4 separate regions of the Homo sapiens genome follow, and all the other regions are linked to region 2. The links come from fine-mapping of genetic effects on gene expression. A gene starts in region 2. Each other region holds a variant in brackets. All regions are shown on one strand. Distances are between the middles of the regions.

Evidence for each region. PIP is the estimated chance that this variant, and not a neighbour inherited with it, causes the effect.
Region 1: its variant is the best candidate, but not a certain one, in a credible set for the expression of HPS6 in whole blood (TOPMed, PIP 0.78).
Region 3: its variant is the best candidate, but not a certain one, in a credible set for the expression of HPS6 in whole blood (INTERVAL, PIP 0.59).
Region 4: its variant is the best candidate, but not a certain one, in a credible set for the expression of HPS6 in whole blood (INTERVAL, PIP 0.85).

What each region holds. Positions count from the first base shown.
Region 1 is chr10:101,967,016-101,969,760 of GRCh38, forward strand. The region is part of intron 20 of ARMH3 (armadillo like helical domain containing 3); the gene reads right to left. Among named protein-coding and RNA genes, the nearest start is that of ARMH3, 88 kb to the right of the region's middle. The variant A/T (reference allele first, on the strand shown) is at 1,536.
Region 2 is chr10:102,063,681-102,066,389 of GRCh38, forward strand. It overlaps HPS6 (HPS6 biogenesis of lysosomal organelles complex 2 subunit 3), which reads left to right and starts at 1,669. Exons shown (of 1, transcript NM_024747.6): 1 at 1,669-2,709. The coding sequence starts at 1,795. RefSeq lists an enhancer at 1,161-1,210 and a silencer at 1,421-2,090.
Region 3 is chr10:101,811,806-101,814,550 of GRCh38, forward strand. It overlaps OGA (O-GlcNAcase), which reads right to left. Exons shown (of 16, transcript NM_012215.5): 2 at 1,750-1,801; 3 at 1,225-1,322. Among named protein-coding and RNA genes, the nearest start is that of OGA, 5.3 kb to the right of the region's middle. The variant T/A (reference allele first, on the strand shown) is at 1,351.
Region 4 is chr10:101,639,287-101,641,786 of GRCh38, forward strand. All of the region lies in intron 5 of FBXW4 (F-box and WD repeat domain containing 4), which reads right to left. Among named protein-coding and RNA genes, the nearest start is that of MIR3158-2, 39 kb to the left of the region's middle. The variant CTTTTT/C (reference allele first, on the strand shown) is at 1,198.

The sequences.
Region 1 (2,745 bases), 97 kb before region 2:
CAGGTCAGAGAAAGCTGTCTATTTGAGCAGCTTTTACATGCTATGAAGACAAACAGCAAAGACAACACTCACCCAGACTTGATTTTGTGACCTGGCATGGAGCTAGGTTTAGGTACCACAGAACCCAAATCAAAACCTGTTCATTAGGAGAGATGGATAATTTCACAGTGACTAATAAAAGAATAATATTACCATCTCAGTTGCTTAGGAGAGAAGTCAAGAAACTCAAAGGACACGATGAAAATAGCACTAGTGTAACAAGCTCATGCCACCAAAACCCTGGAAGCACTATAAACTCTAGCCAATTCCAGCATCTCTGGACAAAATCACCAATTACCCAGGGACATTGCCAGCAATCAGCAGGCTCACTGTCAATCAGCAGAGTGGTGCAGGAGAGAATCTGAAGCCAACACCTGCCAGTAGAATAATTTAAAAATACTCAGCCAGATGCGGTGGCTCAAGCCTGTAATCCTAACACTTTGGGAGGCCAAGGTAGGTGGATCACAAGGTCAGGAGTTCAAGACCAGCCCGGCCAACATGGTAAAAGCCCGTCTCTACTAAAAATACAAAAATTAGCCAGGCATGGTGGTGTGCGCCTGTATTCCCAGCTACTCGGGAGGCTGAGGCAGGAGAATTGCTTGAACCAGGGAGGCAGAGGTTACGGTGAGCTGGGATCGCGCCACGGCACTCCAGCCTGGGCTACAGAGCAAGACTCAGTCGTGGGGGGAGCAGGGGGCGGGGAACAACTCTAGGTGGCTTTTCAGAATACAGGCATCTGTCTGGATGCAAGCCTAAGCACTTCACTGACACAGAGGCCAAAGAATCAAACAAGAAAATGAAATGGCTCTGGCTGTATGCTATCAGCCTCTCCAGGTGAACACAGCACACAAGTCAGTATGTCAACAGCCTGCACTGACTAAAGGCTCCACATTCCTCTAAATGAGTCAGAAATAGAACAAATCCTTTCTTTAAACGGAAATCTGCTTCCATCCTTACCATTTTCCTTGCAGTCAATGTGTATCTGCTAAAAAAAAAAAATAAATAAGGTTCTCAACCATCTTCCATTCCCCATTTTCTTGCAGACAATGCAAACCTCACAATTAGCACCCAGCCTCTTCTTTTTCATGAAAATGAGTTTCCACATGAAAGTTCCCAGATCCTAGACTTTGGGAAATGTAGGGTCCCTGTGCAGCTGCCTCTAACCAAGCATGCTCAGGAGCCACTGCCTTCTTCTAGGGCCCTATACCACCTGCTCCTTTCCCCCCACCGTTTCCTAAAGGAGTGATAGCCAAAATCACCCTTTAAGAAATCTAAAAGTCAATGAGACCATGTCTCAGTGGAGCCATCTGACACAGAACCAATAACTTTACTTTTTGCCAAAATGAGGTAGGACCAATAACAGACTTGTCTTGCTCCCTCGAGATCCAGAGAAGGATGATACCTTATGAAACCACATGACATGTCCCTTTGAAACTAATATAGGCAGAGTAACCAAAAGCACAGCTAATCCTTCCCTGGTCCCTTTTACTTGACAA[A/T]ATGCTCATGGGCCTATGAGAGTTGACATTTTTCTGGATAGGAAGTGACTGCATGCACAGAGAAAAGAACAAAGTGATTTCTTGCTCTTTTGGGGGCTTTTACGTGGGAATCTTTTTCTCCCTGTAACAGGCTAAACCTGTTAGAGATTCTTATCTTTTGCTTCTGCCAAGTTTCTGAGGGGATGAGAGAAAGATTCAAAATAGTGTAAATTTTGGATTCAGCCAAATGTAGTGATTTGAAAGGGAAAAAAGCTTCCTGGCATTCCTTTTTAGTCCTTGGGCTTTCTATACTGCTGTAGACAATATTTCATAACTACATTATAGAACCAGAAAGATACCTTCTAATGCCCCTGAATTAGAACATTCTAATTTTGAGAGGAATTGATCACCCATAGAGGAAAAGAGGCTCTCTATTTTTGCATATGGAAGCTAAAGCAGTCTTAATTAGGCACATCAGCCTAGAATATATCTTGTGACATATTTGCCTAAATCAGAGAAAATTTAGCAGAATGAGGAAGAGCAATTTTAAAAACAAGATAGAAATAGCAGCTGCCAAAATTCCCCTTCCCATCTACTCTAGTTTTTACTGCTATGTTCTTTCCCGCCTGGATACTCTCTTCAAAACTAAAAGAAGCAATGTTGTAGAGTTATATAAGATGTCATCACTGGAGGAAGCTGGGTGAAGGGTACATGAAACTCTATATACTATTTTTGCAACTTCCTGTAAGTCTATAATTACATCAAAATTAAAAGTTTAAAAAAGAAACTAAACTAAAAGAAGCACACAATGAAAAGTTCAAAGCATAGTTTCTCAAAATCAAGAGGGGCTGCTGAACTATCAAAGCTACATCTACACAAGAACTGCCAGATAAATCTATGGCTTGAGTCAGCCTTTCTCTTGAAAAATTTCAGTCCTGTATGGCAACACTTAAAAGTAAAACAAGCTTCCAACGAAAGGCTCTCAATTGCCAGTCTTGAGATGTACCTAACCAAGAAGTCATAGGCCTCTGCCAGTAATAGGAGAGCCAGCTGGATCCAGAACGCTGTGATACTCCCTGGGTTTTCCATTTTTCCCAGTAGATATCTAAAAGGTCAGGCCATGTACAATTTCTTTTTCACAAAGCTGTGAATGCTTTGGATGTTACTTAGCACAGTGAAGCTGAACAGATTGTTCTGGGGGCTTAGGGGGCCTTTCTTCCTGCAGGCAAGC
Region 2 (2,709 bases):
GGCACGGTGGCTCATGCCTGTAATCCCAGCACTTTGGGAGGCCAAGGCATGTGGATCACGAGGTCAAGAGATCAAGACCATCCCGGCCAGCAAGGTGAAACCCTGTCTCTACTGAAAATACAAAAATTAGGTGGGCGTGGTGGTGGGTGCCTCTAATCCCAGCTACTCGGGAGGCTGGGCAGGAGAATCGCTTGAACCCAGGAGGCAGAGGTTGCACTGAGCCAAGATGGTGCCACTTCACTCAAACGTGGGCGACAGAGTGAGACTCTATCTCAATCAATCAATCAATAAAGGATGGAGGAAGATGAACCAAAGGCAAATAAAACTCTGAAGGCAGTGCTATCTAAAAATAAAAATAAAAAAATAAAATAAAATAAAAGGAAAGGAAAACCAGCCAGGAAAGATGCAGTGCAAACCACAGGAGGGACTTTCAATGAGAAGGCTGTCAAATAAAAATGTCCTTGAAGACCTCAGCAAAAGCTACTTCAGGGAAGTAGTGGGTTGAGGATAGAAGGAAAGAAAGTGGAGGTGGCAAATGTAGCATCCTTGCAAGAAAATTGACTGAGAAAGGAAAAGGGGAGGGAGTGATGGAGGTGGAAGTGGGGAGATGAGGATGAAAGAACGAATTCCAAGACAGGAGAGATGACAGGGTATTTCTATGCTGAGGACGGAATGAGGGCAGTGAAACAGAAATGGATGCAAGTTCTCAAGGAAGGTAGGGGCCGGGGAGGAGAGGCAGGGCTCATAAAGAGGGATTGGCCTTGGAGAGAGGAGGAAAACTGCTCACCTGAAAAGGCAGTCAAGGGGTGGAAGGACCCCTGCATACAAATTTGTAGGTGTTACTGAAGAGTCGGTACACAGGCTCAGTGCTTCTAAATTATGTTTCTCTGTTTTGGTTTGGGTGATGAGTTGTTGATATGATAAAGTGATTTGTTGCACTGACTCTGGAGCCAGAGTGCCTGTGGTTGAAATCCCACCTCCACCACTTAATACCTGCTTGATCTTAGTTAAGTTACGTAATCTCTCTGTGCTTCATCCTCCTTATCTGTAAAAGGGACTAGGGGATAGAGAAGGCTGTCACATAGTGATATGGAAGTGGTTTTCTTTCCTTCCTTCCTTCTCTCTCTCTCTCTTTCTTTCTTTCTGTCTTTTTAAAATTTTTATAGAGACAAGGTCTGCCTATGTTGCTCAGGCTGGTCTCGAACGCCTGGCCTCAAGCAATCCTCCCACCTCAGCCTCCCAAAGTGCTAAGATTATAGGCGTGAGCCACCGCGCCCAGCCATGTTTACTATTTCCACTAGATTGTCATCTCCATGAGGTTGAGGTTTTCTATTTTGTTTAGGGCTGTCTACTCAGAGCCTGGCACAAAGCATGTGCTCAACGAAAATTTCCTGAATGAGTAAATTGGGGTGAAATTCTTGGGAGAGGGGCTCAGGGGGCTGGAATCCCTATTCCTGCGTGGGACTCCGGGCCACTGGGCGGCGTCCTGGGGTCTGGGGAAGGGCCTCCCCCTGCGCCGAGAGCGTGCCCGGGCGGGCGCGGTCCAGGCGCTGAGCCCCTGGGGCGCTCCCGTGGCTCCTCCCCCGGCGGGCGTGTAGTGTCGGCCCAGCGACTGCGGGAGGCATCCCGGAGCCGGCCGGGCGGGGCGGAGTCGACGCTCGGCCCGGCCTCTGCTCACCTCATCCACGGGAGACGGAAGTCTTGGCCCTGCTCCGCTCCCCCGAGAATCGGGCCTCGCCCTGCTGGGCGGCTGGACCTGGGCAAAGCCTGGGCGCGCTCCCGCGCAGCGGCGCCATGAAGCGCTCGGGGACTCTGCGGCTGCTCTCGGACCTGAGCGCCTTCGGCGGCGCGGCGCGGCTCCGGGAGCTGGTGGCCGGGGACTCAGCGGTCCGAGTCCGTGGCAGTCCGGACGGCCGCCACTTGCTGCTCCTGCGACCCCCTGGGGCGGTAGCCCCACAGCTGCTAGTCGCGTCGCGAGGGCCCGGCGCGGAGCTAGAGCGGGCCTGGCCGGCCGGCCAGCCCTCCCCGCTGGACGCCTTCTTCCTGCCGTGGCCAGCGCGGCCGGCGCTGGTGCTGGTGTGGGAGAGTGGCCTGGCCGAGGTGTGGGGCGCGGGCGTGGGGCCTGGCTGGCGGCCGCTGCAGAGCACCGAGCTGTGTCCGGGCGGGGGAGCCCGCGTTGTGGCAGTGGCGGCGCTCCGAGGCCGCCTGGTGTGGTGCGAGGAGCGGCAGGCCCGGGCCGAGGGCCCGTCAGGGTCGCCAGCAGCCGCTTTCAGCCACTGTGTGTGCGTCCGGACTCTGGAGCCCAGCGGGGAAGCTAGCACCAGCCTGGGCCGCACACACGTCCTGCTGCACCACTGCCCTGCCTTCGGGCTGCTGGCCTCCTGCAGACAACTCTTCCTGGTGCCCACTGCCACCACCTGGCCTGGCGTGGCCCACGTTCTACTCATCTGGAGCCCAGGCAAGGGCAAAGTGATGGTGGCTGCCCCACGGCTTGGTCTCTCCTACAGTAAGAGTCTGAATCCTGGACGAGGGGACACATGGGACTTCCGGACCCTGCTCCGAGGCCTTCCTGGGTTGCTGTCCCCCAGGGAGCCACTGGCTGTACACACCTGGGCCCCAACTCCCCAGGGCCTGCTGTTGCTTGACTTCGGGGGCACTGTGAGCCTATTGCAGTCCCACGGTGGTACGCGGGCTGTGGGCACCCTGCAG
Region 3 (2,745 bases), 250 kb before region 2:
AATTGACAATTTTCCTAAATCAACTTAACTACTACTAGTATATACTATAAGACATATTTTTGAATAATTTTCAGTAGTATCTCAAGATAGTCATTTTTACTCTATTTTGATTATTGATCACATTAAGTTTCATTACCAGCACCACCAGAAAGTAATTAAGTTGAAGGCACACTTAAATAGAGTAGTAAACCACAACACTAGATGGAGATGGGGTAAGCTGTAATTGCTTCTTTGTAATTCAAGAAAACTTTCAGCCTTCTGTGCCTTGGCTGGGCTCTGTAACCAAATATCTTGTTAGCTATATGCGTATACCATTTAATTTCAAGTACAAAAATGTTTCACCATTTACAAGTTCCCAAAGAAAAGCACCTCTCTAATTTGGCGGTTCAATGCTATACTACTTTTTATCAATTTTATGTAACCAACTCAACGTTAAGTATACCCATAGCAGGCCGGCCGGGCACAGGAGCTCAAGCCTGTAATCCCAGCACTTTGGGAGGCTGAGGCAGCAGAATCTCTTGAACTCGGGAGGGCGAGGTTTGCAGTTAGCCGAGATCGCACCACTGCACTCCAGCCTGGGGGACAGAGCAAGACTCTGTCTCAAAAAACAAAACAAAACAAAACAAAACCCAAAGACAGCCTATTAATGGCTTCCCACTTTCCTGGACTAGGGTTTAAGGACCAGTAACTGCTGACAAGGCCAAGCCATACTAGAGCCTGAAGCAAAAGGAACAATCAGTAGTGCTGATCCTGTCTTTACCTAAAATTTTAGCATTGTGTACATCATGAATTTCTGCATTAATTTTGGTTTTTTAAAAAAATTGCATAAAATATTATTTATGTTGATTACTTTTTGGGGGTCCCTTAAAATTTGCACCCAAGGTACGTGCCTCACTTGCCTTGCCCTGGGCCTAGCCCAGCTCCAGCACTTCTTTGCCCAGTGGCCCACTGTTTAATCCACTGGCAGAAGTAAGCAGCACAATCTATGACCACAGAACAGATGGAGTCAGCCTAGCACGCCCATGATATCACACATATGGTCATGACCTTGCTAGCGCAGAGCACTCTTTCAATCTCAGCTAACTGAATAGTTACCAGATAGAAGAAAAGGAAACTACCTACAAAATAAAAATAAAATGTCATAAAATTCTTGTACAACTACATTTAAAATATAACCGTTTTCTTCACAGATTTTGAATTTATGGATAAAAAGAAAAAGATTACCAGCTTCCTCCACTGAATACATCTCTCGCCAAAACATCCTATGTTTGTAGTCATCTTTTGGGGCATACAAGTATGTATTTAATTCCCATTTCTGGAGCCTTAAGGAGAAAGAAAATTACATATGTA[T/A]AAACAGGCAACATTCATAGGCTGTCAATCTCCATTTCCCTCTTCTTGGAGCATCTCCATCTCATACAAAGCTAATATTCTATGACAGTAGCTTTTAACCTTTTTGTAATCAGTGGAATTTAAAAAAATTAAGTATTACAATGTATGCCAACATACAAAACACTCTTAAAAAACACAACAGCTCTGGGTAAGGTGAAGCCCAAAACTTATTCAGCTCCCCAGGAAAAGTTTGAAAATCAAAGGCCTAGGTGAAGAAAAAAGGGACCAAGGTAAAATAACTTCTGCAATTGAGAAACCATCAAAATGCACCTGGGCTATTCACTGTTAGTATTTCTTCAAACAAAAGAAAATGTTAAGAGTTTAAGGTTCTCCTCTCTCCTTCATATAATGAAGATTTACCTTCTAAAGAGTTCTTTTCTCTGTTCCATAACCCAAGGTCTTCCATAAAATCCTAGATTCAAAGTAAGAATGAAATTATATTCAGTTTTAAAATGTGGTAAGCTTTATTGAGAAAAGCAAGTTACAAAACATATAATACAATCCTATTTTGTAAAAAGCATAAAATACACCAAATCGGAAGGATATTTAATAAAATACTAAGGTTCCTTTAATCTTTGGGTGGTGACGTTACAAGGTGACTTTTATTCCATTTTTGCTTAGGTAATTTTTTTTATTTTTTCTACCATGACATTAGTTACTTAGGTGATAGTTATTTTAAAACAAACATCTATCATCTTTCCACTGTTGATAAAGTCCAAATATATTTAATTCCAATTTTTTAAGAGATCTCAATCTTATAATGGGGAACGGCAGCAATGTAATACAAGCTGCCAACAGTAACAATTACTTCCTAGAATGATAGTAAAACTGCTTTAGAAAGGGTGAGGGGAGGCCGGGTGAGGTGACCCACGCCTGTAATCCCAGCACTTTGGGAGGCTGAGGCAGGTAGATCACTTGAGGTCAGGAGTTCCAGACCCAGCCTGGCCAACATGGTGAAACCATGTCTCTACTAAAAATACAAAAATTAGCCAGGTATGGTGGCAAATGCCTGTAATCCCAGCTATTTGGGAGGCTGAGAAACAACAATCACTTGAACCTGGGAGACGGACTTGCAGTGAGCCGAGACTGCGTCACTGCACTACAGCCTGGGCTACAGAGCAAGACTCCATCTCAAACAACAACAACAAAAGGGTGAGGGGAGATAAACAGGTAAAGCAATTAAAAACAAATCAGAGATAGGATTAGGAAAGAATCTGACTTAATTTTATGATCGTGCTCCTCTTTTTTAAAAAAAGTTCCTGGCCAGGACTGGAATTCCAGTTACTTGGGAGGCTAGGGCAGGAGAACTGCTTGAATCCAGGAGGCGGAGGCTGCGGTGAGCCAAGATCCGCGCCA
Region 4 (2,500 bases), 420 kb before region 2:
GGCGGGTTTTGCTAAGGACACCATCAACAGCTTACAAAGGAGGAATCCTTATTTGCTGACTAGTAATAATGTGAGGGGGAGGAGGTCAAAGGCTGTACAACAGTTCCTATCAGACTCTTCACTTTGTTTAAGAGTTGGTAGCCAAGGTCTCTGAGCTCAGTCACCATTCACATAGACACTTTGGGACTGGACATCATGGAGTCATTTGGCCTTTATCCAACTAGTAGACACCTATTGTTCTGTGTGCCCACATTCTCCCTCCATATATGTGATTCCTGAGAGATCCACCATGTTCTTACATGACTTTCCCTCCCTGGCCACAGTTAATTAATCAAGAGATGCGCAGCTGACCCAAAACTGGCCTGGGATTTTTGGAAGCCAGTCACTCTCTCTGATTTAAGCCATGAGCTGCCAAACTCAGGAGCACTTGGCAGCCTCATGGAATAAGCTGGTCAGCTTGGAGAAAGGAAGGAGCTAAGAACCATAAAGAAAGAGATGAGCACCCCAGAAGGATAAAGCCATGGCAGCACTATGGCCTCTGGTTCAGCTAGTCCCAAGGGTGTATTTCAGTTCTGCCTTTGGCTTGGTTTTTCACCTTTTCCCTTGGATTTCATGAGCCAAATATTCTGTTTTATTTATGTGAATTTGAATTTGGTTTCTGTCACTTACAATAAATGTGTCCTGAGTAATATAGAGCCTCTGTTCAGTAACTGCTCGGCTTCTCACCCAACTGAATGTCCTCACTGAGAGATGAGCAAAGGGCTTTGCCAGGCCTCTACTGGACACCTTGGGGCCTAAGAAGATACTTCAACCACAAAATTAATACCTGGTAGGTCTTCTAGGAGAGCAGATGAAACAGAACCACACAGGCTGGCCTGGAACTTCAGAAAGGAGATGAGGTGTTCTCTTATACCAATGCCTAAGAACAGTGCCAGGAAAAATCTACCTGCCCACTCCCAGTAGGGGGTGAGGAGATGGTCTGGACAACAGAAAATAACAAGGATGCTGCTTGAGGGATGGGAGTCTAGTCTTCAAGGGACAAGGCCCTGATCTTCAGAGATTTGGTCCCTTGAATCCCTTTTTATGGACTGATGAGACTGAATGTTCTACTGGAAACCACATGACTCATTCTAATGGGGCAGAGTTTGGTTTACTCTCAAACCCTTCCATTTTCTTTTCTTTTCTTTCTTTCTTTCT[CTTTTT/C]TTTTTTTTTTTTTTTTTTGAGAGAGAGAGTCTCACTCTGTTGCCCAGGCTGGAGTGCAGTGGCATGATCTTGGCTCACTGCAACCTCTGCTTCCTGGGTTCAAGCGATTCTTGTGTCTTAGCCTCCCAAATAGATGGGATTACAGGCATGTGCTACCATCCCCAGCTAATTTTTTTTTTTTTTTTTAAGTAGAGATTGGGTTTTGCTGTATTGGTCTCAAATGGTCTCAAACTCCTGGCTGGTCTCACGCTCCTGGCCTCAAGTGATCCACCTGCCTCGGCCTCCCAAAGTGTTGGGATTACAGGTATGAGCCACCCTGCCCAACCTAGACTCTTCCTTCCCCCACCCCCGCCTTTTTTGAGACCAAGTCTCACTCTGTCGCTCAGGCTGGAGTACAATGGTGTGATCTTGGCTCACTGCAACCTCCACCTCCCAGGTTCAAGCAATTCTTCTGCCTCAGCCTCCCGAGTAGCTGGGATTACTGGCACCCGCCACCACACCCAGCTAATTTTTGTATTTTTAGTAGAGATGGGGTTTCACCATGTTGGCCAGGCTGGTGTCGAACTCCTGACCTCAGGTGATCCACCCACCTCGGCCTCCCAAAGTGCTGGGATTACAGGCATGAGCCACCGCGCCCAGCCAACCCTTCCATTTTCAACAACCATAATGCCAGGCATTTAAGAGATAGATAATTTAAATATATTTTCCACGTATTCATCTAATTTTAATTAAAAGCATGCACAATTGGATAGGAGAATCTTTGAGGGGGAAAAAAGGAAAAAAAGCATGCATAAAATAATTAAGATGGTGATGGAAAACACAGGGGTTAATTTTACTATTTTTCTCTTTATCTTTGAAAATTTTCAGAATTAAAGTTTAAAAATACACATCCACAATCAAAACCAATTGACTGTGATCTTTCTTTGTAACCCCAAGCAACTCCTTTGTTACAACTTCTTTTATCTCTTCTCCACCCTGACCTGGTACAAATGACCCAAAAACTAAGGGAAAAATAAATCTGACTATAGGAGCAAACTCAAATATTCTACTTCTGAATCCCTCTGAGTGACATGTGCACACAAACACAAAACACAAGAGAAACCAAGCAGAAAATTCACATAGTGCATGTAAGATTTTTTCTCAAAAAAAAACAAAACAATACACATACACCTTAAGTGTGTCCCCCCAAACCCTCTCACTCTCTTTTTTTTTAATGAACCTGGCCCCAGATCAGAAAGACATTTGAAGTTGTAAATCAGAAATTAGGTACGAGGAAACCAAAGCTTATTTATGGAAA